4 linked regions of the Homo sapiens genome follow. The protein of the gene in region 1 interacts with the protein of each later gene in a biochemical or structural test. Each region holds a gene or a part of one and is shown on either strand. Other genes may lie near its edges. The genes, in order: RIPK2, BIRC3, YWHAG and BIRC2.

Evidence for each region.
Region 2: the proteins of RIPK2 (region 1) and BIRC3 form a complex in vitro, tested with the Homo sapiens proteins (2 studies listed by BioGRID, with this or other methods).
Region 3: the proteins of RIPK2 (region 1) and YWHAG form a complex in vitro, tested with the Homo sapiens proteins (one study listed by BioGRID).
Region 4: the proteins of RIPK2 (region 1) and BIRC2 form a complex in vitro, tested with the Homo sapiens proteins (4 studies listed by BioGRID, with this or other methods).

Annotation. Positions count from the first base shown.
Region 1 is NC_000008.11:89,760,291-89,767,971, forward strand, and holds part of RIPK2 (receptor-interacting serine/threonine-protein kinase 2), read left to right. Parts: intron 1-2,538; coding exon 2,539-2,692; intron 2,693-5,050; coding exon 5,051-5,206; intron 5,207-6,718; exon of another isoform or gene 6,719-6,819; intron 6,820-7,681.
Region 2 is NC_000011.10:102,320,355-102,328,035, reverse strand, and holds part of BIRC3 (baculoviral IAP repeat-containing protein 3), read right to left. Parts: intron 6,200-7,681; 5' UTR 3,527-6,199; coding exon 2,674-3,526; intron 2,571-2,673; coding exon 2,471-2,570; intron 1-2,470. UniProt on the Homo sapiens protein: Multi-functional protein which regulates not only caspases and apoptosis, but also modulates inflammatory signaling and immunity, mitogenic kinase signaling and cell proliferation, as well as cell invasion and metastasis.
Region 3 is NC_000007.14:76,355,992-76,363,920, reverse strand, and holds the start of YWHAG (14-3-3 protein gamma), read left to right. Parts: upstream 1-4,929; 5' UTR 4,930-5,112; coding exon 5,113-5,199; intron 5,200-7,929. UniProt on the Homo sapiens protein: Adapter protein implicated in the regulation of a large spectrum of both general and specialized signaling pathways. Binds to a large number of partners, usually by recognition of a phosphoserine or phosphothreonine motif.
Region 4 is NC_000011.10:102,349,958-102,357,638, forward strand, and holds part of BIRC2 (baculoviral IAP repeat-containing protein 2), read left to right. Parts: coding exon 1-792; intron 793-886; coding exon 887-986; intron 987-7,681. UniProt on the Homo sapiens protein: Multi-functional protein which regulates not only caspases and apoptosis, but also modulates inflammatory signaling and immunity, mitogenic kinase signaling, and cell proliferation, as well as cell invasion and metastasis.

The sequences.
Region 1 (7,681 bases):
AACCTGACTTCTATCCGATGAGTGGACCTTCCCCAACAATCTTCCCACCCCTTATGAGTAATGAGTCCAATTGGTTGTTCAAATACCCTGTAGATGACATAACTTTTCTGATTAAATTTTTGAGTTAATTTTGGTGATGTGACTATGGAAGCTGTACTTTACACCTTTATTTTCAAAATGTAAAAATCAATTTTTAAAATCTTTTGGCTTTAAAAAAAATTTCCCACTCACTCAATCTTGCCAAAAATCTACCTTCAAGAACTTTCCTACTATATTCTTTGATCAAGCAATAGGGTAGAAAGAATGCAGGCTTTAATGTCCCATGATTGCAATTCAAATCTGACGCCAACCCTGCCACTTATTAGTGTGACCATTAGAAAAGTATTAATTTTTCTGAGCCTTAGTGCCCTCATTTATAAAGTGGAGCTAATGAAACTATGTTTAGAGGGTGATCTTAAGATGCTAGTGCATATAAAGTGACTGACATGTAATAGGGTCACAGTGGAAAGAAGAATGCCTCTTAATGGGAGGAGGAAAGAGTGTGTGAAGTGTCACTGAGACTTCTGCAGCATGCACTCTCTATTGTTCTTAGTATCCAGGAATCTTCAGGGTCATCCTCTATTGTTGGCCTAAATCTCTTGGGGCAGATATGGAACTATTTCCATCTAGGGAATAAACATTTAATTAAAATGGGTCTCACAAACTGATACTGGTTTCCTAGCAGTTGGAGTATTAAGTGATTGAAGGACAGAGAATGAGAGAAGCTTTTCACTTTATGCCTTCTTGTTACTCTTGAATTTTAAGACATATAAATATATGACCTATTCAAAAAATAAATGACGAAGATTCTTTTGCTTTGTTTTTTTGTTTGTTTTTAAAAGTAGTCCTCTTAGTCTGGTCTAGAATGTCTGTTGCTATTCATATTTCAACAGCCATTCATTCAGAGCTTGGGAGGTGTAAGAACTAACTTATCATCATTACTTACCTAATAGGCTTCTCCTGGAAACATTTCTATTTCTGTCATTGCTGCAGCCAACATCCAGTCACTCAGGGTAAAAAAATAATGACATCTCCAATTCCTTTTCATTTTTTTTTTAACCCCCTACAGTCAGTCACTACAACGCGGGCATTCTATTCACTTAGTGTTTTTCTTTCCATTTCCACTGCTACCTTTGTAGTTTTAGGTTCATGTATTAACTGGTATTAAAATCTCCTAACACCTGACTTTCAAACTCTACCACTTTCTACTAATCCTACATCTTGTTGCCAAATTGATCATCTTAAAATTGTATTCTACTGTCATTCCCCAACTCAAAAACTTTCAGTCACACCAGGTACATTGGCACACCCCTGTAGTCCCAGCTACTCAAGAGGCAGAGTAGGGAGGGCCAGTCTGGGCGACATAGCAAGATCTGGTCTGTTAAAAAAAAAAAAAGTTTCCAGTGTGTATTCTGTATGTTAAAAAAAGCAAACAAACCGTCAATCACTTAGTGACTGCTAAGTGAAGTTTCACCACCCTAACCAGGCTTTAAGACTGAGATATGTCCCTAACCTGTCTTATTCACCTTCACTCCTTTTATATTACATAAAAGGAGTGCATTAAACAATTCACAATTTCCCAACTTTAGCCTTCCCTTTAATTTCCTTGAAATCATTTGATACCTACCTATTGGACGTCTGATACAATTGAGCCCAGGAGTTTGAGGCCACCCTGAATAACATAGTGAGACCTTGTCTCTACAAAAAAAAAATAGGCACGGTTGCATGCCTGTGGAGCTAGCTGGCTGCTGGGGAGGCTAAGGTGGGAGGATGGCTTGAATCCAGGAGTTTGAGGCTATAGTGAGCTGTGATCACACCACTGCACTCTAGCCAGGGTGACAAAGAAAAATAGAAAAAAAAATAGTTAAATATATATTTGTTTTACATATGAATAAACAAATGAACCTGGGAGCCAGTTACCCCAGCAGTCTATTAATATTATTGAGCATTTACCTGTTCTCAGTGATCTTTTCCTGAGTTCTGGTATATAATTTATAAATATTACTGACTTTTATGCAGCTATTGAATCTATAACATTTAAAGGTTTTAATATTCAGGATATTTGGAAAATGTTTATATGGTATGCAACCATAAAATTTAATATAATATTCTAATAAAACATGCTCATTTGAATACAATGTAAACTTAATCATGTAATTAGTTCAAGCACCAATTGTTCTAACATAGATAGACTTTATAAATTTAATACTATGTTCTTTCCCATTCCTGGGATAAGTACAATAATAATAAACCTGTGTTTAGCACTTTTACCTGTCAATGGCTTATAGAAGTTAGTTTGGTCTCTAAACAGACCTGTGGAATATATAGGGTAGGTATTATTTCTATTTTAAATATGATGAAACTAAGGTGCAGAGAAGTTGCATAATTTACATGAGGTCACATAGCTAATTAATGAAAAAAAATCCAGGCTTAGTCTTATAGGCATGATAATTGTATATTTTTTTATTACTTGAATAATTATGCATTTTTTTTTCTTAGTGAAAGAAAGGATGTCTTAAGAGAAGCTGAAATTTTACACAAAGCTAGATTTAGTTACATTCTTCCAATTTTGGGAATTTGCAATGAGCCTGAATTTTTGGGAATAGTTACTGAATACATGCCAAATGGATCATTAAATGAACTCCTACATAGGGTAAGTATTACACAGTTTTAGTGGCCATAATTGCCATTTTTACTATTCAAACTATATTTTACTTTGATTTTATATTTGGTCAGATTATTTAGGGGTATATAGATGAATCAAAGAATAATGAAAAACTATCACAGGGATAAAATTTTACCTTTTGTGACATTTTTGTGTTGATTAAAACACTGTGGATTCAGGCCCTGTACTCTAGATTATTTTGCCTGGGTTACCATTCCTAACATTTATACCAAATTATAGTATTTACATGCATATTACATGGGTAGAAATGGAAGAGATAAACTCTGCATACTGTAAAATCCACTGTTAAGTGATATTTTATTTTATATTAATAGCAATTTCAAATTCAAATTTAATGTTATTAATACCAGTTCATAAAGTTCTGAATTAGCAGGCCAAATATTAATAAATTATCTCTGAATACCAGATACATTAGCTTTTCTAATAATAGACAGTGGTATCAGCCATTTACCCTTTTTCCCAAGGTACCAGTCACTCTCTCTTTGATTATGAATCCCTTGAGTAAACAAATTCAGGGGTCCTCATTCTCAAAATACATGTATTCATTATTAATATTATCATGAGTCTGTAGTTTCAGTAGATCTTTTTAAACTACTTGGTCCATTTTTTGAGGGTTGGCTTAATTAAAACTGTATTAATCTACAAAATCCAATCAATAGATACTCATAAATGATAGTGTAACACAATGCCCTGTAAGTGGCCAAGGGAAAGTGGGTGCCACTGTCAGTCAGTCATAGAGTAACTTCCTCTCAGTTTCAGAATACATCACATTCTATTCATGACTTGTGACCATTTGAAACAAGGATGGAATAAGTAACTGGTGTCAGTCTGTAAGATTTGTATAACTACCACAGAGCCAAGATACAAATATTAATAAATCACAATTTCTCTTTTATTTTTGTTGAGAAATGAGTATAAGTAGAAATCTAACATTTTCTTCCCACACCCCAGCAGATACTCTGGCACCCAAATTTGCAGCTCGCTGGAAATTCTACAGCCTCCTCAAGGGGGATTGCTAACTCCTGGAAAAAAAATCATAAAATATACAGTGAGCACTTCTCTCCCTTGTCTCCATGATCACAAGCCCCCATATTATATTATGCTGCAGAGAGGCCTGGTAACTGCTTTAAACTGCATAATTTTCAGAAAAAGTTACCTTTTTTACAGATTAAAAGATTAAGTTTCTCTAGGGGACAGGCCTCTGTGTATGCCAGAGAAAGTAATGTTCCACGTCAGCTTTTTGTGTTTCTTTTGGTTTCCTGTATTGCATTATTTAGGGTGGGATTTATCTTGAAGTGCCCTCCCCCAACCTCACAAAATTCATTGAGAAAACTCAAGATGTATCATAAACAGTCTAAAATATTTTGAACCACTCCCCCTGCCAGATTGATCACTGAACTATAAGCTGACGCATTTGCAGAAAAACTTCTCAAGAACAGTTTTGTACTTTCAGTAGAAGCAGTCTTTTTCATAGCATTTAGAAAAATGTGGTATGGTGCCTGGTGATTCATCGTGGATCTTCCCAAATTGCCTGATCTTCCAAAGTATGTTCATTCTCCTGGGAAGCCACATTAACTTTTATGTTCAGAAAACATTTATTTTAAGAAAACTCAGATGGATATTATTTGAGTACTATGAAAAATAAAATGTTATGTTTTAAATGTGTCTGTTCTATACAGTTTTAGAAACAAAAATGAGTGTCCCTTCCACAAAAACAAAACAAAAGGCTAATTTTATAAGCTGGAATGCAGATAAATTAATTATATGATTAAATGTATGATAAATTAATGCTTAGTCAATAAATACAATATGATCATAATTTGTAACTGATGCAGTGATTATAATGTATGATTTTATAGTAATAGAAAAATTAAAATACAAATTTTGAATGAATGCCTTGGTATTTACTAGAAAAAAACTGTCTGTAATTTTGTGTGTATTTGTGTGTACTCAAATTACCTGATTAAGACATAGAATGAGGAGGTGGATGTGGGTGTAAGTATATGACTCTGGCTATATACAGATACAAAGTAATTGAGATTTGTGTCAGCTGAAGAAAGACCCAAAACCATGTAGTTGCATGACCAATATAAACTAAAAGGAAGTATTGGTGCCATAAAGTTATCATAATTTTCTCTATAAAGTGAGGAAAGTAAGACACAAAAATGTTAAACCCTATCAAATTGGTGCTATTTTATAAAAATGAGCATATGTTTTAACCTTAGTTTATACTGTATTTCCTCATGGAATATTTAACTTTCTAAGTGTGAAACATAGTGAAATTTGGACTAATTTCATTTTCTTTCTTTTCACATATATATGAAGAAAACTGAATATCCTGATGTTGCTTGGCCATTGAGATTTCGCATCCTGCATGAAATTGCCCTTGGTGTAAATTACCTGCACAATATGACTCCTCCTTTACTTCATCATGACTTGAAGACTCAGAATATCTTATTGGACAATGAATTTCATGTTAAGGTAATTACTTTTTTAAAAAGTTTATGTTTCCTTGTCCTTATAGTTTTAAAAATACTTTTTAGTTATTTCTTCGACCTAGCCAATTTCATGTCTCTCCTTAGAGATAGAGACTAATGAATAGTAATTTCCATAGCCCCTAATTTCTATCTTCTATTCTCCTTCTTCCTACTGCAGTTAGGAAGTTATTCCTAGACAGAGATAGAATTATGGTACAAAATACAAAGCCATTATGTTTCTTAATTGAATTGTCAAGATCACCTTTTTTTTTTACTTTTTATTTTAAAATTATTATATATTTATAGGAAGTTGCAAAGGTAATAAAGAGGTTTCATGTATCCTTCACCTGGTTTCCCACATTGTTATATCACACATAATTATAGTATAATTTCAAGACCAGGAATTTGACATTAGTACAATGTGTGTTCATAGTAACCGCAACAATCAAGGTACAGCACTACTCATAACATCACCACAAAGATAACACTCATCCTACCTCACCCACTTCCTCCCTACCACAATCTGTACCCCTAACAACCACTAATCTGCTTTCCATCTCTTTAATTTTGTCATTTTGAAAATGCTATATAAGTGGAATCATATAGTATGTGATATTTTGAGATTGGCTTTGTTCACGTCACATAATGCTCTTGTGATCCGTCTAAGTTGTGCTTGTAACAATAGTTGTTTTTTATTGATAAGTAGTATTCCACAGTATAAATGTACCAAAGTTAACCATTCAGGAACATTTTGGTTCTTTCCATTTTGGGGTAATTATTTACAAAGCTGCTGTGAACAAAGCTGTACAGGTTTATGAGTGAACATAAGTCTTCATTACTCTGTGATAAATGCCCAAGAATGCAAATGCTGGGTCATATGGTAAGGGTGTGTTTAGTTTTTAAAGAAAGTATCCAACTATTTTCCAGAGTGGCTGTACCATTTTACATTCCACCAGCAATGTGTGAGAGATCCAGCTATTCCGCATCATTTTCTAAAGGGATTCTTTGGTTTTCTTACTGTTGAGTTTTGAGAATTCTGTATATGTTACAGTAGTAGTTCTTCATCAGATATGTAGTTTGCAAATATTTCCTCCCAGTTATAGTTTATCTTTTCATCCTTTTAACAGGGACTTTCACAAAGCAAAATGATAATACCAAATGCCCACCAGCATTTGGTATTATCACTGTTTTCTGTTTAGCTGTTCTAATAGATGTGTAGTGATATCTCATCTTGGTATTAATTTGCATTTTCCTAACTGCTAATGATATCGAACACCTTTTTATATGCTAATTTGCCACCCATACGTGGTTTTCAGTGAAATGTCTCTCATGTCTTAAGCTCATTTTCTAAAGGGATTCTTTGGTTTTCTTACTGTTGAGTTTTGAGAGTTCTGTATTTGTTACAGTAGTAGTTCTTCATCAGATATGTAGTTTGCAAATATTTCCTCCCAGTTATAGTTTGTCTTTTCATCCTTTTAACAGGGACTTTCACAAAGCAAAAATTTTAATTTTGATGAAGTCCATATTTTTTCTTCTATGGATCATGCTTTTGCTGTCATCTCTAAGCACTTTTCACCAAGTTCTACTTACTGAAGATTTCCTTTTTTGTTATCTTCTGTAAGTTTTATAGTTTTATGTTACATATGTAATCTGTGATCCACCTTGAATTCATTTTTTAATAAGATGCAGGACTTAAGTGCTGAAGACACTGGCTATTGTGATTTCACAGCTATACTATATCTAACTGAGTGTAAATAAAAAGTAGTTTTTGAGTAATTAATACTAAATGTAACTCACCATATTTTTATGTATCATTTTGCTATACTTCTTTTAATAACATGTAATCAGAAAATTATTATAAATATAAAAAATGTTCAAAGAAATCAGTAATAGAGAAGTTGAAACAACAGGGAAATTAAAACAAGAAATGTGAGAGAAAATAAGTGGGAAAAATTTTTATTGAAGACACTCCTCTCCTTAGAATAAAGTGGTAGGGGAAAGGAGAGAGAAGCAAGCTGCTGCCTCAGTATTGCTAAGAAAAAAAGAGACTAATCTATTCCATCAATTATAGAACCATCAAGTAGAAATACCTTAATGGTCAACTAGTTCTCTGATACTTCACTGCAACAATCCCTGTCTCCCAAAGCAGTTATCCTGTAACAGGGAGTCTTAACATCCTTAATTGAATAATTGTGACATTTTCTTAAATGATCAACCAAAATTCCTTCCTGGTTGCTTCCACACATTGATCCTAGTTCAACTTTTTGTGATAAACAGAATAAATCCAATTTAGTTACTTCAGCAAGACAGCCCTTTCAATATTTGAAGATAGCTATGAGCTGTCTCCCAAACCCTCACGTACAAGTGCATTTTATCCATCTCCCTGATAAATACCCTTTAGTTCCTTCAACTCGTTTTCTTATTACATGGATTTTAATCCTTGGTGCTATGTAGATGCATCATTTTGTTTAAATCTCAC
Region 2 (7,681 bases), on another chromosome or scaffold:
ATAAAATTTGAGGGATTATTTATACAAGTGAAATGAAAATGTAATAACATAAATTTCTCATCTCTAGGTGTTTATTCCATTTCAAATCTGGTTGTTTGCCTCAAATCACAGAATCATTTAAGATCATTTATTCTAAACTTAATGTTAGAAGAATAAATACATCCTAGCCCACTGGGAACTGATTCTATTGTATTGCTTTTAAAAAAAAAACTTTTTTTCTAAAACTAACCCATAGTTATCCTATGACAGGATTCAAATTTTTTGTGTGAATTTTTAATTGTTTTGTAAGATGCTTCTCATGACAGTCAACATTTTTCATACAGGTTGAATGTTTTACAAAATTAATATTTTTATATTTGCCAAGATACATTATGCTTCTGCTAATTTTTTTTTTTTTAGACAGAGTCTCGCTCTGTCACCCAGGCTGGAGGGCAGTGGGATGATCTCAGTTCACTGTAACCTCTGCCTCCCAGGTTCAAGTGATTCTGGTGCCTCAGCCTCCCGAGTAGCTGAGCTTGCAGGTGCCTGCCACCATGGCCGGCTAATTTTTGCATTTTTAGTGGAGATGGGGCTTTACCATGTTGCCATACTGGTCTCGAACTCCTGACCTCAAGTGATCCTCCTGCCTCAGCCTCCCAAAGTGCTGCGATTACAGGCATGAGCCACTGCACCCGACCACTTCAGCTAATTTTGAAAAGTTCTAAAGGTTTATCTTAATTTGGGCAGGACTAATCCAGCCATTTGTAGACTGGCTATTTCAAGTGAGTATAAACATACATATAATCAATTTACTCTTAATATATTGTGAAGTATAAATATTTCAAATGAGTATAAATGTACATATAATCAATTTACTATTCATTTAGCATATAGGGAATGGTCAGAGATATTGCAGTGAAAGGCAGGTTGATATAAGCAAGAGGAAGGTGATTACTAGTTATCTACCAAGGCTCAAGTGGACAAGGGTCAGGAGCCCCTCAGTCTACTGAGGTCAAGTAAGACCATCTCTCCTCAGAGCTCTTAGCTACTCTCTTCAACTCTTCTAAGATTCTTAAAACACACTGATGTTGGCCGGGCAAGCACCTCAAAGTCCTGAGGTCAGGAGTTTGAGACCAGCCTGGACAACATGGTGAAACCCTGTCTCTACAAAAATACAAAAATTAGCTGGGCATGCTAGCGTGCACCTGTAATCCCAGCTACTAGCGAGGCTCGAGGCATGAGAATTGCCTGAACCCAAGAGGCGGAGGTTGCAGTGAGCTGACATCACACCATCGCACTCCAATCTGGGCAACAGAGCCAGGCTCCATCTCAAAAGAAAAGAGGAAAAAAAGTAATCAAAATAAGTTAAGATGCCACATTTATTAATCGATATTAACCCATTTCCCATTTAGAAAAAAAACAGTGCAGCTTGTTGCCAGTGCAGTATTCTCAGGGCAAATGGGAAACGGGTTGAATAATAGCAAAAGTTTTGACCATGAAAAAATGTAATTGTAGGCCACATGATTTAGATGAAAAAGGAGAGTGTAAAAAACTTTTTGAAGCTGATATTTTAGTTAGTACATTAAGTTTCTTACCCACGTGATAAAAACCCACACTTGCAAGCTAATCAGGATTAACTAGAACACTAGGTGGCCAGTTAAACAATCAAAAGGGTAACACATCACATTAAAATGCTGCGTGGCGACTAAAACAGATGAGATGAGTCTATACTTACCCTGACCACCCAATTTAATATTGTAACCTGCCTGGCATTTCTAAACTCCTCTTTGTTCTTTTTATTGATTGTACTTATTTTCCAACATGCTATAGAACTTATTCAAGTTTTTATTAGTTGTCTGTTCTCTCGTGCTATAATAAAAACTTAGGAGACCAGGGGTCTTTGTTTTGTTCAACTGATTTTATGCACCCAGAACAATGCCTGCCAATAGGTGATCAATTATTATTGAATACCGAATGAATGGAAATATATCCAAGACAAATGTTGACTGAAAAAACTTCAAAACTAGATATAATATTTAACTTATGTAAAATGGTGTACATTTATTTCTATATGTATATGTATTTATTTCTATATGTATATGTATCATATACATTTATTTCTATATGTCTGGAGGGATGTTCACTAAAGTGGTAACCATGCTCATCCTTAGGCGGTAAGATTTCTGGACATTTTAATTTTCCTTCTCTGTGCTTTTCTACAATGTGTGACTTTGTTTTTATAATGAGCATGTATTATTTAAATATATATATATTTCTTTAAAAATTAAACAAAAATCCCCAAATCTATTTCTTCGTTGTCTTAAGTCCATCGAAACTTTTTAAGTAAGTATTTTACTAAGTAATCCATCCTAAACTTATTCACAAATATATATTTGGAACAGAGTAAAGTAACAACTGATTTCAGGTGAACACATATAAGCAATCTCATGATAATCACAAGAATTTGCAAAGAGAATTTCAAAACAATTACCTTGGAAACCACTTGGCATGTTGAACCCATGGATCATCTCCAGATTCCCAACACCTGAGTCCACCATCACAGCAAAAGCATTTGACATCATCACTGTTACCTAAAATTAATTTTAGACCAAAACTTATGAATACACATAATTTGCCCACTAAAATGTATAAAATGAAATATATTTTTTTTAATTAGCAGATTCAGTTTCTTACCCACATAATAAAAACCCGCACTTGCAAGCTGCTCAGGATTAACTAGAACACTAGAGGGCCAGTTAAAGAATGTTTTAAAGCGGGCTGCATGTGTCTGCATGCTCAGATTAGAAACTGTGTATCTTGAAGTGTCTTGAAGCTGATTTTCTATAAATGGGCATTTGGGAAAATGTCTCAGGTGTTCTGACATAGCATTATCCTTCGGTTCCCAATTGCTCAATTTTCCACCACAGGCAAAGCAAGCCACTCTGTCTCCAGGTCCTATGTAGTAAAAGCCTGCTTTTGCCAGATCTGTTGGCGACAGAAAAGTCAATGGCCATGTCTGAAAAGTAAGTAATCTGGCATTTTCGTTATTCATTGCACAGTGGTAGGAACTTCTCATCAAGGCAGAAAAATCTTGATTTGCTCTGGAGTTTACAGGATTTGATGGAGAGTTTGAATAAGAGCCACGGAAATATCCACTGTTTTCTGTACCCGGAAGTAATGAGTGTGTGGAATTTGTTACTGAAGAAGGAAAAGTAGGCTGAGAGGTAGCTTCCAAGTTGTTAACGGAATTTAGACTCTGAACGAATCTGCAGCTAGGATACAACTTTTTATGCTTTTCAGTAGGACTGTCTCCTCTTTTCCAGTTATCCAGCATCAGGCCACAACAGAAGCATTTGACCTTGTCATTCACACCAGTGTAATAGAAACCAGCACGAGCAAGACTCCTTTCTGAGACAGGAACCCCAGCAGGAAAAGTGGAATACGTAGACATTCGGTACAGTTCACATGACAAGTCGTATTTCAGTTCAAACGTGTTGGCGCTTTTCATCAAATTTGATAAGAATATGCTGTTTTCTACTATGTTCATAATGAAATGAATGGGGAAGAAAAGGGACTAGCCTTTCTCTAGGGAGGTAGTTTTGTGCATGGCTTTGCTTTTATCAGTTTTAATACTAGGCTGAAAAGCCAAAATGAAAAATTTTTTATTATTTTTATTTCTATGCATTTAGAGTTTCAACATGGAGATTCTAAATCCTATACTGATACATTTTAAGGAAGAAATACACAATTGCACCTTTGTATAATCTTTATACATACAATGTAAACATGATGCTACAGAGTAAGCTGTGTTGAAAATTAAAACCCTTCACAGAAGAGTGATGTGTATTAAGCCATCAGGATGCCATTTAATGGCAGGCATCTCCACAGGTAGGTCAACTTCTCCAGGCTACTAGAATGTTTCAGTGGCATTCAATCAACCCAAAGATGTAATGTGTGACTCATGAAGCTTCTTTTCATGGTGGAAAGCTCTGCTGTCAAGTGTTTCACAGCAAAAATATTCAGAATATGTTTATTTTGCTTTTTGGAAATTGTGAAATTTAGTGGCCAGGAAAAAAAAGCACAAGACCTAACTCAAAGGAGGAAAATAATACATTACCATATTTCACTGATTCTAAGATGGCTATTTTAAAACTTCTGTTATCAAGAAGTATTTCATAATTAATGACATCATATTTTAATTAGAAGCACTTTTATTTCTTAGAGGTACGTAAAATAATGGTAAGATTTACAACTGAAGACATTTTGAATTCAGTGAAATATGATATATCCCCAATTTTTCTCCAATTAGTCATTTTTTTCTTTCTACAATCCTTCTAATAAGGAGAACAAAACAATCTAAAATTTCTCTCCAAATAAAGAGATTTACTAGTAACAGGACTGGCTAACACATCTTAAAACCTGGTTTCAATATTAATTAAATAATAGTTATTTCCCATAGATCATCAGGAATATGATTGCTTAAGTATAATGATACTATTAGATCTTACACAATTAAATATTCTATTTAAAATAAATAATCAGAGATTAATGTGTTTGTTCATTTGGTCTTTTGGACTCAGTTTCATGCTGTTGAAGCAACTCAATGTTAAGTTTTTTTATTCTAATAGTATACTTGGCTAGAACATGGAAATGTCCTCTGTAATTATGGTAGACAACAGGTGCTGCAAAAAGAGACTCTGCCCAAACTACCAATAACAAAACTGAACTTCATTGCTATATTCAGGTTACTTTTGGAAAAACAGAATCATGATATATATTTCATTCCCTTTGTTAAAAATTTTCTTAAGATAATTTAGATATGGCTGTAAAATAAGACCTTTCAAAGATTTTAAATTTTTTGTCCCCCTCAAAGAACTAACATTGTAGAGTTATTCAACTTATCACCTCCTGAAAACATTTTTGAACTTTTGTTTTTCTAAATGTTTCTGAAGCCAACATCAAATCTACTCTGATAGTGGATTTATTTTTTAAAACAGTCAAAAGTTACCAGATGCCATCTGTAGGCTAAGATGGATAATCAAATTGCATCAATTTAGTTTTGGTCAGAAATTATTTCATGGATAGCATACCTTGAACCAGAATTTATCATGACAAAAAAAATAATAAATTTACCATTTCAACAGCAGAGACCTTGTCAAAATTCAGAATTTCTCAATTATGATTTACTAGCCATTAGTAAAGAGGTTCTGAGTCGATAATACTAGCAATGACCAATAAGCAAGTCACTGTGGCTTTTTTTTTTTTTTTTTTTTTTTTTTACCAGTGGTTTGCAAGCATGGTTTCCTGGATCTCACAGACGTTGGGCTTTTCAACTGCAGACTTCAATGCTTTGTTTCCAGGTGGCAGGAGAAACATCACATCTCATTACCAACAATTATTTCCCTCAAAGGTAAGTAATTGTATCTAACTTCAATATTCCTTTCCCTGGCCAAAAATTTTACACATTGTTATAAAAATCTTCTTTGTATTCATCACTGTCTTTATATTAATTTTCTAAGTTTCTTCATTTCCTAAAATGTAACCTTCAACCATCATTCTCATCCTCATCATTCTCAGCGGTAACAGCCCATTTAAACAAACTTTTGGACGTTTAAAATATCAGTGGCCTTGTAAATAACTGGATAATTTCTTGACCAATCATCACATTTATCTTTTTACTTCCTCTAAATTTGTTGCACATATCAAAAAGCTTTGTTCTTGATTTTTCTTTGTCACTGTAGAAGTATTTTAATGTGTCAAAACTTTCATCTGCATGTTTCTTTAATTTGCAGTGGATTGATTATTAGCTCTTTGTTCCAAATAACTGTCACTCATTTTAAAATCTTTCCCAAACACAGGTACTATTTCTATTCTACATAATGGGAGAATGTGCCAGTAGGAGACTGCCTGGCCAACTCTGAAAAAAATGCTTTAACAATATGCCCCAGCTAGAATCACTTTTCCTTTATTTCCACAAATCAAATTCAAAATCAAACTCATTATGGTATACCTTATATAACTCGATCATGTTTATAAAATTAGCATTCTTTGGATAGTAAAACACCAGTTAATACTTAATTTGTTTACCCATGCACAAAACTACCTCCCGAGATTAGACTAAGTCCCTTTAAGGATTTTAGGTCTCCATTTTGAGATGTTTTGATTTATAGAAGAAACTGAAAAAAAAATCTAGAAGAAGTCGTTTTCCTCCTTTGTAAACCTGTTCAAAAACAAACAAAAAGACAGTTTTAAAACTCAAACGACTCATGGATGGAACACAATGACTTTTTAAAAAATCATTTTCTCCAAAATAGAGTACTAGTAATTACTGATCGTTTACCATGTATCAGGTGCTTTACTAGGCACTGTAGAGGCCAAAAAGAGATAAAAAACAGAGGCCTCTGCCTGGTGCAGTGGCTCACGCCTGTAATCCCAGCATTTTGGGAGGCCAAGACAAGTGGATCACTTGAGGTCAGGAGTTCAAAACCAGCCTGGCCAAAATGGTGAAACCCCATCTCTACTAAAAATACAAAAATTAGCTGGGTGTGGTGGTACGCGCCTGTAATCCCAGCTACTCCGGAGGCTGAGGCAGGAGAATCATGTGAGCCTGGGAGGTGGAGGTTGCAGTGGGCCGAAATAGTGCCACTACACTCCAGCCTGGGTGACACAGCAAGACTCTGTCTCAAAAATAAAATAAAATAAAATAAAACCCAGAGGTTTCAAACTGGAAGACATATTATGTTTGGCTTACATAGAATTGCATTATAGTTCTTTACTAAGTTTTTATTTTTATTTTGAAATTTATTTATACTTAGAGAAAGCTTACAAAAATAATAGTTTCTGCATACTCTGCACTTAGCTTCCCCAAAGCTAACATCTTACCTAATTACAGTGCAATTAAAGAAACCAGAAAATTCACATTGTACCATGCTGTAGATTAATCTGCATGCCTCATTTGAATTTAATCCAGTTTCCAAATCCATTTTTTTCTTGGACCACAGTATTTTTAAATCTTACCATTAATTGCCAACATGTTTAAATGTAAGAGACTTCCCATCACATTCTAGATTCCAAGCTTCTCTTGAAACATCAAAAGATCTAGCAACACTGGGCCTATAGTCCTGCAGGGCAGCAATCAGCTAAAGCTGAGCAGCAGCTGTGCCCTTTAGAGAGGGAACATGTTCTCTTTGATTCCCTGACACTGGGACTGACTGTTCTGGTAGTCTCCACTAACAGTAACAGTCTAGCAATAACAGACTGTTGCTATTTGTCATTGAACTGGCACTATTGTTTTTCTTACAGCAGAATTATGAGAAAGTGAAATCAATGTAACACATGTGTCCATCAAAAGTAACAAAAATGAAAAGTAGAGAAAAAGGACATATGTTTTGAGAAAAATAGGATAATTTTTGTCTTTGTGGAAAGGAAGGATATTCCTTCATATCAAATACGTAAACAGAGTATGCTTTCATTTAAAAGAGACACCCCACAAGGCCTCATGCCATGGCTCACTCCTGTAATCCCAGCACTTTGGGAGGCTGAGGTAGATGGATTGCTTGAGCCCAGGTGTTTGAGACCAGCCTCAAACTGGGTGACTTGGCAAAACACCATCTCTACAAAGAAACTCAAAAATTAGCCAGACATGGTGGCACCTGCCTGTGGTCCCAGCTACTTGAGAGGCTGAGGCAGGAGGTTCACTTGA
Region 3 (7,929 bases), on another chromosome or scaffold:
TAGCTGTGATGACCATGCCCAGCTAATTTTTAAATTTTTTTTTTTTGTAGAAATGAGGTCTTGCTATGTTGCCCAGGCTAGTCTCGAACTCTTGGCCTCAAGTAATCCTCCTGCCTTGGCCTCCTGAGTAGCTAGGACTACAGCTACATTCATTTCTTGTTTTTCTTTCTTTTTTTTTTCTTTTTTGAGACACAGTCTCACTCTGTCGCCCAGGCTGGAGTGCAATGGCACAATCTTGGCTCACTGCAACCTCCACCTCCTGGGTTCAAGCGATTCTCCTGCCTCAGCCTCCCGAGTAGCTGAAACTACAGGCACACGCCACCACGCTTGGCTAATTTTTGTATTTTTAGTAGAGACAGCATTTCACCATGTTGGCCAGGCTGGTCTCAAACTCCTGACCTCAGGTGATGAGCCCACCTCGGCCTCCCAAACTGCTGGTATTACCGGCGTAAGCCAGTGCACCTGGCCATATTCATTTATTTATTTCCTATTCTCTCTCTATGTACTTATCATGTGCCAGGTACTCTGCTGAGCACTGAGAAGCCAAGGTGAGGATGAAAAAGACAAAACCCAAATCTGATCATTTTCTGCCATTGTTAAAATCTCTTCACAGGCTTCCGATTAATTTCAGAATAGAAATTTAACTCCTGGGGCTGCCATTCAGTGCCCCTCATGTTCTGGCCCCTGACTCTATCCCCAGCCCCTTACCCATCACCCAGACACCAGATACATCAGATTCTTTGCCTATCAATAAATATTTCAGGGGAGATGGGTGTGGTGGTGCATGCCTGTAGTCCCCACTACTCAGGAGGCTGAGGTGGGAGGATCACTTGAGCCCAGGAATTAGAGGCTGCAGTGAGCTATGATCGTGCCACTGTACCCCAGCCTGGGCAACATAGTGAGACCCCCACCTCTAAAAAATAAGTACATAAATAAATAAGTCAGGGAGGAACTTGCCTTTGAGTCTTGCTACCTGTGCCTTTGCCTGCTCTCAAATCCTACACTCATTTAAAGGCTGGGTTGGAAATGTTACCAAACTCCCTGGAGAAGCTTTTCAGAATCTCTTCCTATGCAGCCTGAAAGAAGTTATTTTTTAAACAAAATATTTACAGTGCTTAACACACTCTGAATTCCTTGAGGACAGGGGTCCTCCAGCATCTGGCATAGAGCCTGCAATATTCCCCCATGGAAACTCTTTCATTCCACATTCTCATCCACACTTCATGTTTCCTATTTTATTTTTCACTTCTTATTGATTTTTTTGTTGTTATTTAGTTTTTATTTCATAGTCACAAACTTAACTCTGCAATCCACCCAGACATGGAAGGGAATAAGAAAATCATGGGACTCAAAGGGAACTGTAGCAAGAACACAAAGATGATAGGATACTGGGAGCAAATGGGGTGGATGGATAGGTGCTCTCCTGAGCTACTGAAGGAATGGTCTGGTGGTTAAGATAAAACACAAGTCAAATTTACTAGAGTTGTCCACAGTCAGCAATGGTGATTTTATTTTATTTATTTATTTATTTTTTAGAGGGAGTTTCACTCTTTTTGCCCAAGCTGGAGTGCAATGGTGCAATCTCAGCTCACTGCAACCTCTGCCTCCCAGGTTCCAGCGATTCTCCTGCGTCAGCCTCTGGAGTAGCTGGGACTACAGGCACCTACCACCACGCCCAGCTAATTTTTGTATTTTTAGTAGAGACAGGGGTTTCACCATGTTGGCCAGGCTGGTCTCGAACTCCTGACCTCAAGTGATCTGCCCACCTCGGCCTCCTAAAGTGCTAAGGTTACAGGCGTGAGCCACCGCGCCCGGCCATAGCAATGGTGATCTTCTTGCTGGTCTTGCCATTCCTGGACTCGTAGCGCTCCATGGCCTCCACAATATTCATGCTCGCTTTCACCTTGCCAAAGACCTCCATGCTGGCCATCTAACCACTTAGTCTTGGCAGTGCAGATGAAAAACTGGGAAGCATTTGTGTTGGGTCCAACATCTGCCATGGGCAAGATGCCAGGATCTGTATGCTTCAGGATGAGGTTCTCTTCATCGAATTTCTCCCCATAGATGGACTTGCCACCAGTGCCATTATGGTGTGTAAAGTTACCACCCTGACACATAATCCCTGGAGTAATTCTGTGAAAGTAGGAACCCTTGCCGGGCGTAATGGCTCACACCTGTAATCCCAGCACTTTGGGAGGCTGAGGCGGATGGATCATGAGGTCAGGAGTTCGAGACCAGCCTAACATGGTGAAACACCGTCTCTACTAAAAATACAAAAATTAGCTGGGCGTGGTGGTGCGCGCCTGTAATCCCAGCTACTTAGAAGGCTGAGGCAGGAGAATCGCTTGAACCCGGGAGGCAGAGGTTGCAGTGAGCCAAGACTGCACCACTGCACTCCAGCCTGGGCTACAGAGCGAGACTCTGTCTCAAAAAAAAAAAAAGAAAAAGAAAAGAAAAAAAAAGAGAGAGTAGGAACCCTTATAACCAAATCCTTTCTCTCCAGTGCTCAGAGAACGAAAGTTTTCTGCTGTCTTTACAACACTGTCTGCTAACAGCTCCGATATGTTAACATGGCTTTACAGTTTAGATGAGAGGTCACTTCTTTTTTTTTTTTTTTTTTTGAGACGGAGTCTTTTTCTGTCTCCCAGGCTGGAGTGCACTGGCACAATCTCGGCTCACTGCAAGCTCCGGAGAGGTCACTTGGCTTCTTGGTTTCCATGCCCCTAACCTTGAAGGAGACGCAGCCCAAGGGCTCAATAGTAATGTCAAAGAACACGGTGGGATTGACCATGGCCAGTAGTAGAGTACTCCTGGCAGCAGCAGAGTCTGCAAAGCTCACTTTTTTTTTGTTTTGTTTTTTGATATGGAGTTTCGCTCTTGTTGCCCAGGCTGAAGTGCAATGAAACGATCTCGGCTCACTGCAACCTCCACCTCCCAGGTTCAAGCAATTCTCCTGCCTCAGCCTCCCAAGTAGCTGGGATTACAGGTGCCCACCACCACACCCAGCTAATTTTTGTATTTTTAGTTGAGATGGGGTTTTGCTACGTTAGCCAGGCTGGTCTCGAACTCCTGACCTCAGATGATCCACCCGCTTCGGCCTCCCAAAGTGTTGGGATTACAGGTGTGAGTCACCGTGCCAGGCCAAAGCTCACTTCTTTTTTTTTTTCGAGACGGAGTCTCGCTCTGTCACCCATGCTGGAGTGCAGTAGAGGGATCTCAGCTCACTGCAACCTCCGACTCCCGGGTTCAAGTGATTCTCCTGCCTCAGCCTCCCGAGTAGCTGGGATAACAGGTGGGCACCACCACGCCCAGCTAGTTCTTTTGTATTTTTTGTAGAGACAGGGTTTCACCATGTTGGCCAGGATGGTCTCGATCTCCTGACCTTGTCATCCGCCCGCCTCGGTCTCCCAAAGTGCTGGGATTACAGGTGTGAGTCACCGTGCCCAGCCTTTAAAAAACTTTTTATTTTATTATTTGTTTTTGAAACGGAGTCTTGCTCTGTCGCCAGACTGGAGTGCAGTGGCGCAATCTCAGCTCACTGCAACCTCAAAACTCACTCCTTACTGACTTCTAGCATACTGTACATATCTCACCTATTTTCTTGGGCAGGGATTTTTGTCTGTTTTGTTCACTACTGTACCTCGTGGCTTAGAATAGGGCTTGGAACACAGTAGCTTCTCATAGATAATTGTTGAATACATAAAGTAAATAAAATGTGCAGTCAAAACTATCAGGCCTGCAGGCATGGTGGCTCACATCTGTAATCCCAGCACCTTGGGAGGCCGAGGCGTGAGGATCGCTTGAGCCCAGGAGTTCGAGACCAGCATGGGCAACAAAGCTAGACCCCCGTCTCTACAAAAAAGCAAAACAAAGCAAAAAAACCCATGCTATCTGCAAGCTATGTGGAATAATATGAACGAGAATATATCAGCGTGACCTCAGTAGGTATGTATGTCTTAGGAGGGGAGAGAAGGGCTGGACAACCAAGCCCTAGACGCAGCCCAGTTAGATGTGGAGTAGGCTCCTGGTAGCTGAACTCAATCTTTAGCACTCCACCCTGGAGAGGAAGAAGGGGTTCTCCAGGGTCAGCCAGCAGACAGCTGCATCCTTTCTGGAAATCAACCACTGTGGCCAGCCGGTATTTGTCGTTCGTCCATGTTTTCACCTATTCAGGCCCAAGAGCCTCAAGGTGGGGTGGGGGGTTTAATGGAAGCTCGTAGGGGGTGGAGGTGACAGTCCCCAGGGTCTGGCCCCTTAATTCGGCCATCCCGCGGGCAGGCACCACACTGAGAGTCTGGATCTACAATGGACGCGCCTCCTGTCCTTCCCCCACCACGACCTGCTACGTGATCTCGGAAACAGGGTCTAGGACTGAGGCCCCTGCCCCCTCCTCTCGTAATTTCCCGGAGAATATGGGGCGGGGCGGTGAATCAGCACTCGCAGGGACTGATGCAGCCCTGATCCCCGCCAGGGGTCCCCAGCGGCCTCGGGATTCGAAGCACCCCCCCCCGTCCTCCTGCGCCTGCGCGCTATGTCCGCTGGGAGTTGTAGTCTTGACCGCCCCTTTGTCCTTGGTCTCCTCAGCGCCTCAGTGCACTGCAGGTTACACTACAACTCCCAGGGGCCCATGCGTCCGAGGGCTGGCGGGGCGGGAGGCTCAAGGGGGAGGCGTAAGGGGGCGACTGGAGAAGCTGGGGTGAGGGAACTGGGGAGTGAAGTGAAAAAAGGGGAGAGTGGGGGCGCAGTGGGAAAGGACGGGGTGCCCGGAAGACGCGCAGTGAGCCCAGCTGGGGAGCGGGGAGTTCTAGCCGCGGCCGGGCTCGGGCGGGGCATGGGCGGGGCTTGCGGACGGGTGGGCGGGGCCTGCCTTCGTCATGCGGCGTGGGCGGGGCCGCAGGGGGTTGTCCGTCAGTGGCACGCACAGCAGCCGCAGCCGCCTCGCGCCCGGTCCCGCGGTCGCAGCTCCAGCCGCCTCCTCCGCGCAGCCGCCGCCTCAGCTGCTCGCTCTGTGGGTCGGTCCTCTCCGGCACTTGGGCTCCAGTCGCGCCCTCCAAGCCCTTCAGGCCGCCCCAGTGTCCTCCTCCTTCTCCGGCCAGACCCAGCCCCGCGAAGATGGTGGACCGCGAGCAACTGGTGCAGAAAGCCCGGCTGGCCGAGCAGGCGGAGCGCTACGACGACATGGCCGCGGCCATGAAGAACGTGAGTGTCTCCTCCCCTCCCCCGCCGCTCCCTGCCCCTCCGAAGACGCGGTCCTTGGCGTGGAAGGCCCGGGGCTTCGTCGCCCTGTCGCGATGGCGGGTTGACCGCCCCGTCTCGCTCACTGAGGGGGGCTGGGGAGGGTCCCGAGAGGCGACGGGAACCCGGGCTGTGACGCGGCCTCTTTTCGGAGTCCCCGTGGCCCCGCGGCGCTGCCATTCAGGCCCGGCGCGGGCGCGGGCCGGGGCGAGGTCCCGCGGGGCTGGACTTGGGAGCGGGGTCTCCGGCCCCCGCGGCTCTAGGGGTGCAGGGGACCCGAGCGGGGAGGCGTGCGCATCCTTTGTGCCCCACTTCCCCCCTCCTCCTAGCCTGGGCGTGGGGGCGGGGGACCGCATGGATGCGGTTCCTCTTTCTCTCCCTGGTGTCTGGGCGGCGCCTTTCCCATTCACTCAGCAGGTCTCCCGGTTTTCCACCTCCCCAGCCCCCCCAGAATCTTCCCCACTGTCTGTCCCGACACATCCCTGAGAATCTTCCCAGAAACATTGTATAGGGTCTCTTGAAAACCTGAGCTCCGTGGTGCAAAATCGAAACCACCTTGCTCACGTTTTTCTTAACAAAAGGCTCTTCTTTCTCCATTCGCCCAAAGCAAGTCCTCCGGCTTTTAGGAAGGGAGAACGTTTGTCTCGCTAGCGTTTTCATTGATCATTCTCAACATGTCATCTCCATTTTATTCCCTAATGTTTTTGTATTGAAAAGGGTAGGTATTGCCTGTAAAATTAAAAGGTGGTGAATGTAGCTGACTGGTTCGATTCGTGTGACATATGCCGTTTCTTTTTTGAATACAGGCACGCGTCTGTTGAAATTCCTATAAGTTGGGGGAAAAAATATTCTGTCTGATCTGATAGTGCAAACAAAGCCGTGGTGAGAGGCAGTATCAAGTCATTCCAGAAGATTCTGCATTTGTCATATTGCAGAGAGCCTAGACTGGGTGGAGGCTGGGAGGAGTTATTTTAAAGGGGAAAAAGTCTTTTTAAAAATTTTTGGTTGTTAGATGCATCTGAGGCTTTTTTTTGTTTAAGCGAGTACATCTTCATGCTGATGAAAAGAGAATACCGATCGCCAGTTGTCGCATTTTGTCTGGGTTGCAGATTCATCCCTGTATTGCACCATTTTGTCAGTAACACCACATTTATCTAATGGGCTGTCAACCAGTTTGATATTAGAGGAGGGGGAAGTATTGAGCATTATGAAATGAAAGGTAGAAAATTAATCTAATGATTTCGGGCCCCCACTATCTTAATATTTAATTTCCTGCCTTATGTAACAAAGATTTTCAAATTCATCTCCATTGTGAAGTGGATGCTGGAGTGTACCTTGCGTGTTACATCTTTTAAATGAAGCATTATTGATATTACAGATCAATTCTTGAATAAATTTACTGGTTCTCAAAAGAGGACAATGCTGATACCTTTATATTTAAAGCAGCTATGTTAACAAAGAAAGGTTTTTGTCTTATTGAAGAGAACTGATTCTGAAATTCGGAATACTGCTGTGGCCACAGTTGCTGTCTTACAAGGTTTTAATGCTTAAATGATGTAAGTTGCACTTCTAATAGGTATCAGTATTGGAAATATCTTCAGTTCGTGTTATTTAGACTCTTATAATTTTTCCATATTTCTTTTCCATATTTCTAGTTCCACAGGAAAGCGAGTGACCTCGCACCTATATCCATAGCAACCAAGTGATGTCACACACAATGACACAGAGGCTGCAATGCACCTAAGGGCTGGTAGGGAGTGTGCAAATGGCATTTATCCAAGGTAATGCAGAAATTAGCCGATAAGCCAGGTGGAATCGAGCACTTCATATTCCACTAGATGAGAATTAGTCCAAAAAATAAGGATATCATTTACCCTTAGACATGCAAATCTGTGACCTCTAGCTAGGCCTTGTTCACCCTATTGCTAGCTTTCTCACAAAAGTTTATAAGATGCTTTTTTATATTTTTAAACATTCATCTCATTTATTTAAAATACTGGGCAATGATGGAATAAAAGTAGAAATTTTAAACGATAATTTATGGAATAAAAGAAATTTTAAACAAGAATATAGTTTATGACACTAGTGCACAGATGGGATGTATACTTGTGTTTATTGCAGATAATTAATTTGGCAGGTTTTAATAAAAACCTTAAAAAAATGATGACTTCCTACTGAGTCATTTTCAGTTACTAGTAGGGAATGAAAACCCGTTCCAAAACCTTTTAAGTTGAGATTTGGGAAGTTTGTTTTTTACTAGATTTGTGCTTCTGCTCCTTCACAGTATAGAGGAAAGAACAGTTTGTAAAATAAAAACCTTTTTTCAAATCTGTTTCCTGTGACTTTAAGGAAATAGGCTCTGTCCCTCATTTTCCTCATCTGTAAAATGGGACAATACTTGAAAAAGTTGTGCGGATTCAATAAGAAATGTAGTAGGTGTTCCAAAATGGCAACTACCTAAGAAATTTTCTTCCTGTTTATAAAAGTCATCGTGGAGAATTTGGAAACTGCAGAGAAAGAAACCAATCTTACCACTCAAGTGAGCTCTCTTTTAAGGCCGAAATCATCCTGTTGATAAAGGGATTAAAATTTATTTGAGTTTAATGAAATTATCCTAGTGCTAACACTATTGGGATCTGTGCAGAATGATAGTTCTTTGTGGGTAACCAGGACAGAAGTACTGTATTGTGCAGT
Region 4 (7,681 bases), on another chromosome or scaffold:
ACAAACAAAAAATGAAGTATGACTTTTCCTGTGAACTCTACAGAATGTCTACATATTCAACTTTCCCCGCCGGGGTGCCTGTCTCAGAAAGGAGTCTTGCTCGTGCTGGTTTTTATTATACTGGTGTGAATGACAAGGTCAAATGCTTCTGTTGTGGCCTGATGCTGGATAACTGGAAACTAGGAGACAGTCCTATTCAAAAGCATAAACAGCTATATCCTAGCTGTAGCTTTATTCAGAATCTGGTTTCAGCTAGTCTGGGATCCACCTCTAAGAATACGTCTCCAATGAGAAACAGTTTTGCACATTCATTATCTCCCACCTTGGAACATAGTAGCTTGTTCAGTGGTTCTTACTCCAGCCTTTCTCCAAACCCTCTTAATTCTAGAGCAGTTGAAGACATCTCTTCATCGAGGACTAACCCCTACAGTTATGCAATGAGTACTGAAGAAGCCAGATTTCTTACCTACCATATGTGGCCATTAACTTTTTTGTCACCATCAGAATTGGCAAGAGCTGGTTTTTATTATATAGGACCTGGAGATAGGGTAGCCTGCTTTGCCTGTGGTGGGAAGCTCAGTAACTGGGAACCAAAGGATGATGCTATGTCAGAACACCGGAGGCATTTTCCCAACTGTCCATTTTTGGAAAATTCTCTAGAAACTCTGAGGTTTAGCATTTCAAATCTGAGCATGCAGACACATGCAGCTCGAATGAGAACATTTATGTACTGGCCATCTAGTGTTCCAGTTCAGCCTGAGCAGCTTGCAAGTGCTGGTTTTTATTATGTGGGTAAGAAGCAAATAACTATACATTTTATCATTTTATTTTAATTTACATATTAGAACATACGTGTTTTCAATATTTAGTCTTTTTTTTCCTGAAGGTCGCAATGATGATGTCAAATGCTTTTGTTGTGATGGTGGCTTGAGGTGTTGGGAATCTGGAGATGATCCATGGGTAGAACATGCCAAGTGGTTTCCAAGGTAATTGTTTTGAAAAAGGTATTTGTACAAAAAACTCTGTGCTTAAAAGAAGTAGGCATGCCTACATGATTTTGTTTACCTTTAAATTATAACAAAGCCTCTTTTATGCCATTGGGGAATTATCCTTCTAAAAGATCACATTTTAACTTTAATTATTTTGTTGAAAAATATTCTGCAGTCTTCTGTGTACTTTTGTAAGTCAGTTACAAGTATGACCGTACATTTTATTTATTTCCCATTTCTTTTAAAGAGTACTTAAGGATTACAAAGACATATAAAATAGATTAAAAAGACGTTAGAAAAAGGTAAGAACAGGAAAACAAGAAGGGACATAGAATGGATGCAGGAATAAGTCAAATGTAAAAGTCCATGTATTAAGAGCATATCTTAGATGGGCGTGGTGGCTCACACCTGTAATCCCAGCACTTTGGGAGGCCGAGATAGGTGGATCACCTGAGGTCAGGAGTTTGAGACCAGCCTGACCAACATGGTGAAACCCCGTATGTACTAAAAATACAAAAACTAGCTGGGCGTGGTGGCGCGTGGCCGTAGTCCCAGCTTCTCGGGAGGCTGAGACAGGAGAATCGCTTGAGCTCAGGAGGCGGAGGCTGCAGTGAGCCAGGATTGTGCCACTGAACTCCAGCCTGGGTAACAGAGCAAGACTCTGTCTCAAAAAAAAAAAAAAAAAAAAAAAGAAAAAAGCATATCTGACTGCCCATTTTAATTGTAATTGTAAATTATTTTTTCTGTACAATTTTTTTTTGTCATTTACCTCCTTTTAGCCACTTTGTCTCTAGCAGTGTCTTTTTTTATTATAGCCTAGAAATAATTTAGGGGCAGTGTTATTAGTAGAAATAGAATTAAATTGTCTTTGTAATTGAGTAGCTATGTGAACTTGGACGTTGTTTGTAAAATGAGGAGGGGTTGGCCTAGATAATTTTTTAAAATAGTGATAAAATAGGCATAACATTTACCATCTTAACCATTTTTTAAGTGTATAGTTGTGTGTCATTAAGTACATTCTTAACCGTTCTGCGATTATACCGCTATCCATCTCCAGAACCTTTGCATCTTCCCAAACTGAAACTGTCTACCCATCAAGTACTAATTCACCATTATCCCATTCCCCAACATCCTGGCAACCACCATTGTCTTTCTCTTTTTTTTTTTTTTTGTTTTGTTTTTTTTGAGACGGAGTCTCACTCTGTCACCCAGGCTGGAGAGCAGTGGCGCGATCTCGGCTCACTGTAAGCTCCACCTCCCGGGTTCACGCCATTCTCCTGCCTCAGCCTCCCGAGTAGCTGGGACTACAGGCGCCCGCTGCCACGCCCGGCTAATTTTTTGTACTTTTTAGTAGAGATGGGATTTCACCATGTTAGACAGGATGGTCTCGATCTCCTGACCTCGTGATCCACCCACCTCAGCCTCCCAAAGTGCTGGGATTACAGGCGTGAGCCACCGCGTCCAGCCCTTGTTTGTTTTTTTGAGGTGGAGTCTCACTCTGTCATCCAGGCTGGAGTGCAGTGACACGATCTTGGCTCACTGCAACCTCCACCTCCCAGGTTCAAGCGATTCTCCTGCCTCAGCCTCCTGAGTAGCTGGGATTATAGGTGCCTGCCACCATGCCTGGTTAATTTTTTTGTATTTTTAGTAGAGACAGGGTTTTTAGTAGAGACAGGGTTTCACCATGTTGGCCAGGCTGGTCTTGAACTCCTGAGCTCAAGTGATCTGCTCACCTTTGCCTCCGAAAGTGCTGGGATTACAGGCATGAGCCACTGCCCCCTGCCGCACCATTCTATTTCTGTCTCTATGAATTTGACTACTCTAGGCATCATATATAAGTGGAATCATACATCACAGATTATGTTTTTACCTGTGAGTGTCTTTCACAATAATGAAGAATCTCTTGAACCCCTTCAGGAAATTTAAAAAGTTTTCGTCATTTTGTATGATATATGATGAAAAAGAAACTTGAAGTAACAAATACTTTATTATGGATCAGTACATTGTTAAAAGTTGTATTTTAAAGTTATTAATATTAATAATATATCAAGATAAATTTTGACTTTTTTACACTGAAAAATGACTAAATTATTAATTATGTTTAAAATTAAAAAGCATGTTTTATCAGACTTTTAAATGACTTAATTATGTTGGGCTCTATGGGATTATATACATTAATTTGAAATTTAATCCATGTTGTGGTATCAAAGACAAAAACAGCTTCCAAATTCCAGTGTTGGAACTGCTACATTTTGTACCTTATAAAACAAAATCAAAATCTTTATTTTTGTAACTTGTGTTTTGTTTTAAATGATTAAGGGAGAAGATGTAGGGGCGTGTTTTGTAAATGCTTCTCTGAAAACAACACATTTCTTTTTTCCTTTTTTTTATTTTTTTGAGACAGTGTCTCATTCCATCACCTATCACTGCTGGAGTGCAGTGGCAAGATGGCAGTTCACTGCAACCTCCACCTCCTGGGTTCAAGCCTCAGCCCCCCGAGTAGCTGGAATTATAGGCACACGCCACCACACTCAGTAGTTTTTGTATTTTTAGTAGAGACGCAGTTTCGCTATGTTGGCCAGTCTAGTCTCAAACTTCTGACCTCAAGTGATCTGCCTGCCTTGGCCTCCCAAAGTGCTGGGCTTACAGGCATGAGCCACTGAGCCCAGCCCACATTTCAACTGGGAATAATCTTTAATCTCAGTAAATCCATCACCTTATGTAGTAACTTTCTTTTTTTTTTTTTTTTTTTTTTTTGGTGAGAACTCTTAAAAGATGCTCTTTCGCAAATTTCAGGTATAAGGTCCAGTATTATTAGCTATAGTCACCATGTGCTGTACATTAGATCCTCAGAAAGTTTGTGTTCTTTAACCAACATCTTCCCATTTCACCTACCCCCTTATCCCTGGCAACCAGCATTCTACTCTCTGTTTCTGTGAGTTTGGTTACCATACAGTATAGTTGTCCCTTGGTATGCTCGGAGGACTGGTTCTAGGACCCCCATGTATACCAAAATTCGCACATACTGAAGTCCAGAAGTTGACTCTGCAGAACCTGTGCATCCAAAATTCAGCCCTCCAAATATGTGGGTTTCACATCTGCAAATGTGATCTGCATTTGGTTGAGAAAAATCTGGGTGTAAATGGACATGTGCAGTTCAAACCTGTGTTGTTCAAGGGCCAGTTGTATTTGTCTTTCTCTGGCATATTTCACTTGGCATAATGCCTTCCAGGTTCATTCATGTTGCAGATGGTAGGATTTTATTTTATTTTATTTATTTTGAGATGGAGTCTCACTCTGTTGTCCAGGTTGGAGTGCAGTGGCACCATCTAGGCTCACTGCAATCTCCACCTCCTGGCTTCAAGCGATTCTCCTGCCTCAGCCTCTTGAGTAGCTGACATTATAGGCACCTGCCATCATGTCCGGCTAATTACTCTGTTTTTGTAGAGACGGGGTTTCACCATGTTGGCCAGGCTGGTCTCAGACTCCTGATCTCAAGTGATCCACCCGGAGTGGATGGGATTATAGGCGTGAACCACCACGCCCAGCCAGGCTCATCCCCCATTCATCCCTTAGTAGACACTTAAGTTGTTTCCATATAGCTGCTTGAACATGGGAGTAGAGATATCTCTGAGATACTGATTTCATTTCCTTCAGATATGTACACAGAAGTGGGATTGCTAGATCATATGCTAATTCTATTTTTAGTTTTTTGAGCAACCTCTATACTGTTTTCCATAATGACAGTAGTAAATTACCAACAATGGTCAAGGGTTCCCTTTTCTTCACATCTTTGCCAACTTTTGTTATTTCTTGTCTCCGATGATAATAAGGCATCATTACAGGTGGGAGGTGATATTTCATTTTGGTTTTAATTTGCATTTCCCTGATGATCAGTGACATTGAACACCTTTTCATGTACCTGTTGGCCATTTGTATATCTTTGGGAAAATTTCTGTTCAGGTCCTTTGCCCGTTTTCTAACCTGAATTATTTGGGTTTTTTTTTTTTTTTTTTTTTGCTATTGAGTTGTATAAGTTCCTTAAATATTTTAGATATTAACTCCTTATCAAATGTATAATTTGCAAATATTTTCTCCCATTCTGTAGGTTGCCTTTTTATTTTGTCGATTGTTTCCTTTGCTGAGCAGAAGCTTTTTAGCTTGTTGTAGTCGCAGTTTATTTTTGTTTTGGTTGCCTGTGCTTTTGGTGTCATACCCAAAACATTATTGCCAAGACCAGTGCCAAGGAGCTTTTTAGCCTACGTTTTCTTTAAGGAATTTTATGGTTTCTGGATTTATGTTTAGTCTTTAATCCATTTCTAGTTAATTTTTGTAGGTGGTATAAGATAGAGGTCTGGTTTTATTGTTTTACATAAAAACGGTGTTGGATATCCAGTTTTCCCAACACCGTTTGTTAAAGAGACTTATCATTTCAACATTGTGTGTTCTTTGTGCCCTTGTCAAAGATTAATTGATTGTATATGTGGCTTTATTTCTGGGCTCTCTGTTCTGTTGGTGTATGTCTTTGTTTTTATGCTAGTATCATATTGTTTTGATTACTGTAGCTTTGTAATATAGCTTGAAATTAGGAAGTATGATGCCTCCAGTTGTTTTTTTTGTTTGTTTTTTCTCAAGATTGCTTAGGCTATTCTGGGCCTTAAGTTCCGTACAAATTTTATGATTGGTTTTTCTATTTCTGTGATAAAAAAGTCATTGGAATTTTGGTAGGGATTATATTGAATCTGTAGAATGTTATGGGTAGTATGAACATTTTAACAATATTCTTATAATTTAAGAACACGAGATTGTTTAAAAATTTATTTCTGTCATTTTCAGTTTCCTTTATCAGTGTCATATGTTTTTCATTGTGTTTCTCTTTTACCTCCTTGGTTAAATTTATTCCTAAGTATTTTATTGTTTTGGTGCTGTTGTACATGGGATTACTTTCTTAAGTTCTCTTTCAGATAGTTCATTGTTAGTACTGACTTTTGTAAGTTGGTTTTGTATCCTACAACTTCTGGATGGTTTATTAGTTTTAACTGTTTTTGGTGGCATCTTTAGGGTTTTCTATATATATAAGATTATGTCATCTGCAAACAGAGAGTTTGACTTCTTCCAGTCTGATTTGGATGCCTTTTTCTTTTTCTTGCTTAATTGCTCTGGCTAACCCTTCCAGTATTATATTGAATAGACGTGGCAAGAGTAAGCACCCTTGTCTCGTTCCTCATGTTAGTGGAAAAGCTGAAAGCTTTTTTTTTTTTTTTTTTGAGATGGAATTTTGCTCTGTTGCCCAGGCTAGAATGCAGTGGCGCAATCTGAGCTCACTGCAACCTCCACCTCCTGGGTTCAAGTGATTCTCCTGCCCCAGCCTCCCGAGTAGCTGGGATTACAGGTGCGTGCCACTGCACCCAGCTCATTTTTGTAATTTCTTAGTAGAGATGGCGTTTCACCATGTTGGCCAGGCTGGTCTCCAACTCCTGACCTCGTGATCCACCTGCCTCAGCCTCCCAAATTGCTGGGATTAGAGGCGTGAGCCACTGCACCCGGCCAGCTTTCAGGTTTTCATTATCGAGTATGATGTTAACTGTGCACTTGCCATTTATGGTCCTTATGTTGAGGTATATTCCTTCTATAGCTAAATTGGTGAGAATTTTTATCCTGAAAGGGTGTTGAATTTTGTCAAATGCTTTTTCTGTGTCTGTTGAGATGTTTATATTATTATTATTATTATTAATTTTTTTTTTTTTTTTGAGATGGAGTGTTGCTCTGTCACCCAGGCTGGAGTGCAGTGATGCAATCTCAGTTCACTGCAACCTCTGCCTCCTGGGTTCAAGTGATTCTCCTGCCTCAGCCTCCCGAGTAGGTGGGACCACAGGTGCATGCCACCACACCCAGCTAATTTTTGTATTTTTAGTAGAGATGGGGTTTCACCAGGCTGGTCTCAAACTCCTGACCTCAGGTGATCCACCCATCTTGGCCTCCCAAACTGCTGGGATTACAGGCGTGAGCCACTGCACCTGGCTGGTTATATGATTTTTATCCTTCATTTTGTCAATGTGTGGTATCACATTTATTGATTTGCATATGTCATACCATCCTTGCATCTCAGGGATAAATCTCACTTGATATATGATTCTTCTAGTAGGCTGCTGAATTCGGTTTGCTAGTATTTGTTGAGGATTTTTGCATCTGTGCTCATCAGGGCTATTGGCATATAATTTTCTTTTCTTGTGTTGTCCTGGTCTGGCTTTGGTATCAGAGTAATGCTTGGCTTCATAAAATGAGTTTGGAAGTATTCCCCCCTCCTCCCTCCTTACTCCCTCTTCCCTCCCTCTTCTTCCTTCTTCCTCCTCCTCCCTTTTCTTTCTTCTTCCTCCTTCTTTCCTCCTCCTCCTCCTCTTCCTTCTTCTCCTCCTCTTCCTTTCTTCTTCTTTCTTCTTCTTGATAGAACTGTGCTATGAGGTCATCTGTTCCTGGGCTTTTTCTTTGTCAGAAGAGTTATGACTACTGATTCAATCTCCTTACTAGTTATAAGTCTTTTCAGATCTTCTATTTCTTCTTTATTTTAGTCTTGATAAATTACAAGTTTCTAGGAATGCATCCATTTCTTCTAGGTTATACAGTTTTTTGGTGAATAATTGTTCATGGTAGTCTCTTATGGTCATTTGCGTTTCTGTGTTATCAATGGTAAC